Regions from separate parts of the Homo sapiens genome. Here region 1 is linked to region 2. The links come from fine-mapping of genetic effects on gene expression. A gene starts in region 2. The other region holds a variant in brackets. All regions are shown on one strand. Distances are from middle to middle.

Region 1 (5,000 bases), 30 kb before region 2:
TGTTTTAAAATCAGACAGTGGTGATGGCTGCACAATTCTGCAAAAATACTAAAAACCACTGAATTGTATGTATATTTTAAATGAGTGAACTGTATGGTATATGAATTATTACCACAATAAAGCTGCTTCTATATTTATAGTTTGACATTTAAAATTTAGTCACACTTAGAGTTCAACTTTACTACTCTACTACTGAAAATATAGAGTGTATGAAGGATTTCCTCCAATTACATGATTCTAAATTGTCATAGATAAAACACTTTATAATAACATTCTTTAATGAAGATATAAACTCATCAAGTAAATTACAAAGGAAACAAAAATAACAAGGACAAAATTACATAGTTTGATACCTCATGAGACATAATTAAATTCTTCTCAAAGTTTAGCTGAACAACTATACAGTAATATTTTCAAAAACCTGTTTGTTTTATACAAAAGAATATACCCTAACACAGTAGAGTCTCATAATGCCTTGGCGAACACCAATTTGATGCTTTAAGATTTTAATGTATTGTTAACAAATTTTCAAACTCAGGCAAGTTTAGAAATGTCTTCATATTGAATTCCTTCAACTCTGCGTCCTTTTAAAGGGCCCTACAAATTAAAATAATTTAAAATAAGGTTAAAAACACATATTCCTAAAAGACAAAAAAATGACACCATACTTATGGATACAAATTTGCCTTTTCCGCATCCCTAAAATACCATTAAGATTGTTAACATTTGTATACATCTATGAATTTTAAGAATAATCTATGGCATTCTCATTAAGAACTACCATATTTTCTTCTGTGACATCTGACATACGTTATCAATAGACATTGTGGCAGAGACCTGCAAGCTGTTCAGTATCTCCTCTGCTTCCTGGATAAATAGCCAGTTTCCTGGCTCCCTTGTGGTTAGCTGTGGCCATGCATGGAGCTCCAGCCCATGAAAGCAAACAGAAGTGACGGTCCAGACGTGCTATAACTGACACACAATCTGCCAAGCTCCTTTTGCCTGCCCAGTGCACACAGACATGGCAACTGGAGATGCCACTTGAGGGCAGTAGAGGCACTAGCTGGAAGGACCCTGGGTTCACAAATCGCCACTTAGAAAGAGTTCCCTGATCAAAAATACCCATTTGGGGTTTTTAGAGTGAAACGTTAACTTCTACCATGTTTGTGCCATTGTCCATTTGGGGTTTTCTTTTTTTTATAGGAAATATCATTTTGTAAGCATTACGATACTCAAACATGTTTGTCTAGGTTGGCTGTGATAGTTACACTGGTCCAGATTATAAAAAGAGTCCAACTTTAACTTTATTTTCTTCTTTCATATCGAACAAAAAGGGAAAGAGGAAAACTTAATTAATGAAAGATATTTTCTATCACAAAAGCGGATATAACCTGGGAACACAGAGGCTAAGAATATGGGCTGTGAACCTACACTCCCCAAGTTCAAATCTCACTTTCAACAATTGATTTAACCTCTCTGTCCTTCAGTTTCCTCTCTGTGCCTTATTATCTCCCAGTGGAAATAATGGTAATGTCTGTATGATTGGGTTGTTGGGAAATATAAATGAGTTATTTCATATAAAGTGACTAGACCTGGAACTTAATATGAGTGAGAGCTCAATAATTTTCAACTCTAATTATTATTTAATCTTTTGTTTAAAATTTGAGAGTTGGGTCGGGCGCAGTGCTCACATCTGTAATCCCAGCACTTTGGGAGGCCGAGGCAGGTGGATCACCTGAGGTCAGGAGTTTGAGACCAGCCTGACCAACATAGTGAAACCCTATCTCTACTAAAAATATAAAAATTAGCTGGGCATGGTGGCACACACCTGTAATCCCAGCTACTTGGGAGGCTGGAGCAGAAGAATTTCTTGAACCCGGAGGCAGAGGTTGCAGTGAGCTGAGATCGCGCCATTGCACTCCAGCCTGGGCGACAGAGTGAGACTCTGTCTTGAAAATAAATAATAAAATAAAATAAAAT[T/A]AAATTAAATAAAATTAAAATTAAATTTGACAGTTAATCCTCTCCCTTGCAAAATATAACATGATGATGATGACAATAATGATGATGACAATGATGATGACTCTAACCCTAGAACTGAGATTTTAACATTTTTTTACTGCTTCCCTTCACAACAAATAATTATCATATTTAAAGGAATTAAGTTCCCAGATAAAGTATAACCTAGGTTAGATTTTTCATTATCATGTTTAATGGTCTATGGTCAATTACATTTTTCTGATAAGTACCATAAATCTGGAGAATAAGAAGGGAGCCAGACATTTGGGCTTATAGGGCAAATAGCTAAAAAGCTGAAGCTATTTAGGAACAATTTATTGGATGTTAAAAATCTGCTTGATATATGTATAAATTTCAAATATTATCAACGACATGAAAACTTAAGGTGCCAGAAATGATAAAAATAACCACTTGCAAAGCTCAAGTGATGACACAAGCATATACAGAGATTTTTTTTTTTTTTTTAATGAGGACAGGCTGAAGAAAGGAAGAAAAAAAAATTAGGAGACAGATTCCCTTTTTTTTTTTTTTTGAGACGGAGTCTCGCTGTCACCCAGGCCGGAGTAAGTGGCGCAATCTTGGCTCACTGCAATCTCTGCCTCCCAGGTTCAAGCGATTCTCCTGCCTCAGTCTCCCGAGCTGGGACTTCAGGCATTTGCCACCGCGCCCAGCTAATTTTTGTATTTTTAGTGGAGATGGGGTTTCTCCATGTTGGCCGGGCTGGTCTCGAACTCCTGACCTCAGGTGATTCGTCCGCCTCAGCCTCCCAAAGTGCTGGAATTACAGGCATGAGCCACCATGCCAAGCTGGTAGATTCCCTCTTCTAAAAGAAGTACATGTTGCTTTGCAATCAAACAGAAAGGCTTTTCATGTGGATTTGCTGCTAAGTTCTACCTCAGTACAGAAGATGAAACTGGGTCTACAGTGCAGAAGGTGAGAAATTAGTTTTTGATGAATGGACACAACCTGCGAACCAAAGGTATCGAGATGGAACTCAACACAGCCTCAACAGTAATCAGTTGTTTTGTGTTTCCCTGAGATGAAAACATGAAACAGGATCTGCATTTGATAGCACTATGAAATTAATAAGGTAAGTTTCATGCATGGTCCATGCAAAAAAAAAAAAAAAAGAAATTAATAAGGGAAGGATAAGCAAGTTGTCAAGGAAATACTGGATTTTCTACTGCCTTATGCTGATAGAGTCAGAGAAAATCTTATAGAGTTTTTTGTTAAAACTCAATCTGCTAATTTAGTCAGACTGACATGTTCCTCAATGCCAAGTAGGAGTCCTTTTTCCCTTTCTTCCCCTTAGTTTACGTTAGTAACAGTTAGCAAGTAACAGCTTCTAGGTTAGCATTGTCAGGATCAGAAAGAAAAAAAAAAAGGAGAAAAGCTTGATTTACTGAAATGAGAATTCTCTCAAATAAGGACCTAAATGGTTTTTCCAGAAAACCTTCCTAGACACATATTCTCTAACAGGTCCATGGGCTTAGGGGGCCTATAAACTCCCCAAGAGAACAAATAAAATTTGGCAATTATGTGCAATGTTTTGAAGAGTCTAAACTTTCATTAAACTCTCTAAGTGAGCTATTACTCCCAAGCTCCCCCAGAAATACTAAAACTGACTGTACTGGAGATAAAAAATTCTTTTGTTTAGCATCAAAGATATGCAGTGCAGTAGTTCAGAGTTCTAAAAGGAAACTTTCTTTCTGAAGATATCTCAGACCTCACTCACAGACCTGTGAGTGAAATATCAGTTCTAAGTCAATAACCAACTTTATTTATAAGTCAGAGTTCTTTAAATTACTGTATTGATCTCTGCTACCTTAAATCCTTTATGAAAAAAGGGGAGACATTTTAAAAAGTGGTTGACCTCTGTGGTTCCCTCCCTCTTGACAATGACTTTACTTCCCCCACTAACTTTACTATGCCAAATTGAGTTTTATATTCGATATGAGGGGAAAAAAGGATATAAAACTGTACCTATTACACACACTTTCATAAAACACCAAGATTGGAAAGGAACAGACCAAAATATTAATGGGGTTTATTGTTGGGCTGGGGGACTATGATTAATTTTTATAATTATTTATATTAAATTATGTTTTTTGGGGTTTTATGCATGAGTACACATTTCTTTTATAATCAGAAAATAAAATACTTTAGCAATGGCAGAGTCACTGGAGAAAATAAGCTTACAGATTTCCAAATAGGATAGAAGGCTAACAAAAAACTCAAATTCTAAAATAAAGAACAATCCAATTAAAAAAAACTATGGCACATTTTTAAAGCATTTTGAAATTTCTGTCTTTGTGTAAACAAACTTACAGTTTCAATGACGATAGTAGCTGAAAAAGTCTTCTCATTGATGGATTCTAGGGTACCTTCATTTCCTCTGTAGCCTCCATTTAAAACTAGAATTCTTTTTCCTATGATGGAAAAGAATATAAAAATTAATGTGAAGAAATATCTCCACTTTTCTTCTAACTTGTTACAGCAAAATGTACTACACTGAATAAACATAATAAAAAACAAAACCCTTTTTCTTAGAAGTTCTCAATCATTTAAGAAGTGTGTAGTATTTTAGTGCGGTGTATGGATACTTTCACTACTCGAACATTATAAGACTTCTCATTTTTCCCCCAATTATTTGTTAAAGGAATATGTATGTTTTACTTTTAGACTGCAAAGAATATAAGGTACTTGGAGAAAATGTTCAGAGTCCAGAAGTAATCAGAGACAATTTAGCTTACTTTGTCTCTTTGCAAAATTCATAAGATGGTTTGGCAGTTTTACAAAAATTTAAACTTATACCTAACATGTGACTGAGCCATTCTATGTATTTACCCAAGAAAAAAGAAACCAGATATCCACACAAAGCTTTGTACGTATATGTTCACAGCAGTTTTATTTTTAACAGCCAAAAGCTGTAAATAAGCCAAATGTCTATCAACAGATAACTGGATAAACAAACTGGTACAGTA
Region 2 (5,000 bases):
AAAAGGGGTGGAGGGAAAATGGGTTATATTCTAAATTCAGAATATAGAGAAAATTAAATTTGGAGAAAACTAAAAGTCCTAATAACTCAGAGCACAGAGGACTTTTTGGGCAGTTAAACTATTTTGTGAGATTTTATAATGGTGAATACGTATCATTATGCATTTGTCAAAACCCATAGGATGTACAACACCAAGAGTGAACCCTAATGTAAACTATGGATTCTGGATGATACTGATGTGTCAATGTAGTTTCATCCATGGTAACAAATATAACACCTCGTTGCAGGATGTTGATGATGAGGGAGACTGGAGAGGGGAGCGGAGGTCCTAATAACCAAACCTATAACAGTCTATTGCTTTTGATCGAATCTTGATTTCAAGGAGCAGTTGGAGGACAACTGAGGAAGTGTGAATGTGTATTAGATGATAAAGAGGAACTTCTATTAATTGTGTTATGTTGATGACATATACTATGGTTATATAGAAAAGTATCCTGAAATTTTAGAGATGCCTATTTAAGTATTTAAAGGTGAAATATCCTGATATTGGTATTTACCTTAAAATATTTTTTAAAAAGTAAATACGGCAAAATTACTTAAAGTGTTAAGTCTGGGTGTTACAGACTGCATGTCTGCGTCCCCTCAAAGTTCATATATTGAACCCTAACCCCCAAGGGAATGGAATTAAAAGGTGGGCCTTTGGAGATGACTGGATTTAGATGAGGTCACAAGGGTAGAGCCTGCATGATGAACAGGGTGGGACCGTATCTCAAAAAAAAAAAGAGGAAGAGAAGTTTCTATTAGAGCTTGCTCTATCTGCTTTGTGAGGATAGAGGCAGTTTCGCAAACCAAGAAGAGGACCCTCACTAGAATCTGACCATGCCAGCACCTTGATCTTGAACTTCCCAGCCTCCAGAACTGTGAGAAATAAATTTCTGTCATTTAAACCACCCAGTCTACTGCACTTTATATGGCAGTCCAAGCAGACTAAGACATTAGATAATGCATATACAGGTATTCCTTAATAGAACTAAAGAGAGTAACTGTATCAATATTAGTATGAGTCCTACCTAAAATACCTCTTCCTTCACTTGCAGAAACACTGGATTAGATTATTCCAATTGCCTCAGTGTTCTTCCACCCTTACCCAATCCAGTCCAATCTCCGGAGAAAAATATGATCACATCACTAGCCTGCACAGCATTCAATCAACCACCTCTTTAATGGGGAAAAGTGTAAATTCCATAGTGTAGCCATATAAGGCTTTTCGAGATCTGCCCAGACTCCTTGAGCCACTCTATATATACTTCACTCATTTAAAACTCAGCGACAATCCTACAAGTAGGTGAAATTATTATTCCCTCTTTACAGATAAGTAAAGGGGAATATAAGTAAATAACTTGCCCAAGACCACACGGTTGGTAAGTGGCCCTGCTTGACTTTAAATTTTGACAGTCTGATATATCCATAAACCAGATAAATCCATAATTTTAACCACAATATTATTCTGTGCCCGGTACAGTGTAGGTGCTCAATAAATGCTTGCTAGATGAGTAGTGTGGAAGAGCTTAGCTCTCCTTTTTCACCTGATCCCAAAAGAGGAGTGAATCCTAACCACCCTGTTTCTCTTAAGAGTCAAGTCAAGTAAGAGCTGATGACTGTTACTGGCATTGCCCGGGCGTCTAGTATTGCAGTATCCCCGCCCCTGTGAGGGGTGCAAAACCTTTTCTGATTTCATTTCTTTGGTGGTGGGGATCGGACTGGGGAGGAATGAGGGGTCGCAGAACACAGGCTGCCCGCTGGGCCCGGGGGCTGCGGGGAGGGACGGCTCTCGTGCGCTGAGTAGTTGACTCGCCCACTGCAGACCTCAGAAGCCTCACGACCCGGACCCCGGGAGCCCCAGCCCCGCGCCCTCAGCCCCGCGTCCAGGACCTGATCCTGGATTGCCAGGGGCCCTCCTGGGAAGACGGGGCCACTCCGGGCCCACTCACCTCGTCCCGGCACTGCTTCTGGCACATCTGGCAATACCAGCGTAGCTTCTGCAGCCCCTTGGACTTGATCCTGTTGGCGATAGCCTTGGGAGTAAGAAAATCCGACTTCCCCATGGCGACCACGGCAGCGATCACTTTCTGGACCCCAGTACTCAGCCAGCCGGAAACGGAACCGGGCTGGCGGCGGTGGGCGGGACAAATCCCAGCTGAGAGGCGGAAGGAGGTGGGGCCTGGGAAGACTGGGTTGCAACGGTCGCGAGACTCCCCTCGCCGTAGCGCGAAGAAACGAGACTGAAGAAGAGAGCAAGGTGGGAGGGGCGCGCTGGGGAGCTTCGGCGCATGCGCGCTGAGGCCTGCCTGACCGACCTTCAGCAGGGCTGTGGCTACCATGTTCTCTCGCGCGGGTGTCGCTGGGCTGTCGGCCTGGACCTTGCAGCCGCAATGGTATGGCAGCTTGCGGGAAGATCGGCAGGACCGCAAGGGATGGAAGAGCTTGGGCACGGGGCAGGGAGGAGGAGATGGGCGCGGGGGCAGATGTGGGGTCGCAGGGCCTAGCTGGGCCCCTGGCCCGTCGGAGGCGCCGGGTAGCGGGGGCTGCAGGAAGCGGCTCTGAGGTCGGGCAAGGTGTGCGCAGGGCCGGGCTCCGGCGGAGCAAGGTCCCGCCCGGTTCCCTGAGGTCGGAGGGCCACCTGGGACCTCGGGACTGCGGCCTGAGTCCAAATTGACGTCTGGGCGGTCTTGAGTTCCCTCAGCTAATCAGCACTTCCTGAGCTTCCACTTCCACTGCAAGCCAGGCCCCCAGTCTCAGGGCCTGCAAGGTGACGGGAGCCTGAGCAATAGCCCAGGGGAAGGTTAAGTCGTGCTTTTTGTCCTTGACGCCCTTTGAAACCCTGTAGTGCTGGACAGAGTGACCCTTTAAGATTCGATCGAGTCAGAGAGCGCGGCCGTCGAGCACCTCCCGTGTTGCAGACGCTTTGCTGGGTGCTGCAACAGCAAAGGCGAACATCCTAGATGCCTCTGAGGGTGGTTTTGGTGCAGAAGGGACCGTACAGATCTGTCTGAGGGCGGGGAAGGGAAGGACACCTAGCACTACCTTGAAACCACTTGCTGAAACCGTAACCCTGCAAGGTCATGAAATTGCCCCCAGGTCCTGGGGGAGGAGTTCGGTGGGCTTTTAAGTGGCATTTGTTAACTGACATGCAACTAAAGGGTGCCACGAGCCTCGAGAATTTTAAACATTAGTTCCGGGTAGGGGGACCTGGGCTGGGGGAAGTGCATATTAGAAGGCCCGGGAATGGGCAGGTAAAAGTTGGTTTGTGGGTGGTGCTGTTCAGTTTTGAAGCTTGACGGAATCTGGAAGAATTCCAGACACGCTGCTAAGGGGATTCTAGGCTGTGTCGTAGCAATTCCCTGCTCTTAACAGTGTGGAGGATTTCTAAGGCGCTACAGTGCTAAACTAGATTTTCGTATCCTAATTTATATGAAGGGACCATAAAGCATTAGTTGAAATAAATAGGTTTTTCATTAAGCAAATAACTGATAGTAATATACGAGATTTTCAGAATGATATCTGATGTGAATTAGCCACATAAAATTTTTGGTGGCTTGGCCTTGGAAGTCAGATTTTTTTTTCTCTAATATGGAAAAAGAACATTCATGGGAATTAAAAGGTCACTGTAGTTGAATTCTCAGTTGTATAGATTGTCCCACTTGTTAACCACTCAGCAGACATTAGCTGAGTGCTTCCACTCCACCCGGTGGTACTTGGAAAGTGCCCAAATGTGATGGTGAGCAAATAGATAAGGTCTCAGTCAGTTTCCTGGGACAGTGCCTGGCATGCAGTGGTGCTCTGCGAACATCAGCTCTCCTGGCCTTACCTTCTTGCCACGCATTAATGTTATCTGTCAGTATTTTTACAACCTTAGTTTCTAAGTTGATCTTTAAAAAAGTGGAAATAGTTTCTGAAACAAAGACAATATTTTACAAAAAATTTTAGAAATATCTTTTTTTAAAGCACCTGTAAGATAATTTGAAGCTCTTTTAGTGAAGGATTGTTTTAAATAAGAGCTCTCAGTTCAAGACAACTACTGTTAGGAGCTTAAATCGGAACCACAATCAGCATATAAAGGTCCTAATCCTGACCTTAATCCCTTTGGAATATTGGTTTTATAAATCATCAATCAACAGTGTTCCACTATGAAAGCATATTCTGTCTTCTTCTTTTCATGTATTCCTTCACTGCTGGTGCTTAATGTCTTTCCTTCCTCTTCTGCCATTTCTCTTTCCATGAATTATAATTGCCTTTTGAATTCAGAAATTAAAACCACTCCACAGAATTAATTTGGAAGGGGAAGAAAAGACCTTTGTCTTAACGAACCATGAAGAGGCATATTTCCATGCTTCTGTCTTGATTACTGGAAGTTTTTTAAAGTACAATTTGTTATTTTAGTTTTTGTTTTCAGAGAGGCTACCATGCTAACATAAAAACATTAGGCTTACTTAAATTCACAGTGGTTATTTTAATAGTTGTTAGGGTATCGGCAAAATACTCTAACGTTTTGAAAATTAAACCTTTTTTTTAAAGCAGCATATAAGAAAATGGAAATTAAAAATTTGAGAGAAAGAATCCCGGATTTTACTGTCTTCAAATTTGGGAAAAACATTTCTATTTCTTAGAGTTCAGTAGTCTCTAAAATGGAACTGTTTTTTAATAACGTGTCAGTAGTCATAAACTACAGATACCGATAAGGAGATGGCATTTCAGGAGAGAAAAGACAAATTGTCATCTGAGACCATGAGGGCAGATATTTACTAATAAATGTAAAAAATGTGAGGCAGCAGAGTGTAGTACTGTATGAAGAGAGAGACTCTGTAGCCAGCCCTGAAGGGCTGCATTCAGACGGCAGGGATTGAATTCTGATTGCCACTTAGCAGCTCTGTGACCTTGGGCAGGTTACTCAGTGTCTGTCCCACCAGTTCCTCATCTGTCAAATATATGCAATAAAAGTGC

Direction of the effects. Alleles are on the strand shown, and positions count from the first base shown. SD is a standard deviation of normalised expression in the study named.
As copies of T replace A in region 1, the expression in subcutaneous fat of the gene that starts at base 2,164 in region 2 goes down (moderate effect, 0.53 SD a copy in TwinsUK).

What was found.
Region 1: its variant is fine-mapped to the expression of KIN in subcutaneous fat (TwinsUK, PIP 0.95).

The regions. Positions count from the first base shown.
Region 1 is chr10:7,755,546-7,760,545 of GRCh38, forward strand. KIN (Kin17 DNA and RNA binding protein) reads right to left here. Exons shown (of 13, transcript NM_012311.4): 12 at 4,345-4,445; 13 at 1-597. The coding sequence ends at 535. Among named protein-coding and RNA genes, the nearest start is that of KIN, 30 kb to the right of the region's middle. The variant T/A (reference allele first, on the strand shown) is at 1,981.
Region 2 is chr10:7,785,830-7,790,829 of GRCh38, forward strand. It overlaps KIN (Kin17 DNA and RNA binding protein), which reads right to left and starts at 2,164. Exons shown (of 13, transcript NM_012311.4): 1 at 1,991-2,164. The coding sequence starts at 2,104. It overlaps ATP5F1C (ATP synthase F1 subunit gamma), which reads left to right and starts at 2,348. Exons shown (of 10, transcript NM_001001973.3): 1 at 2,348-2,434. The coding sequence starts at 2,379. RefSeq lists enhancers at 2,117-2,436, 2,889-3,432.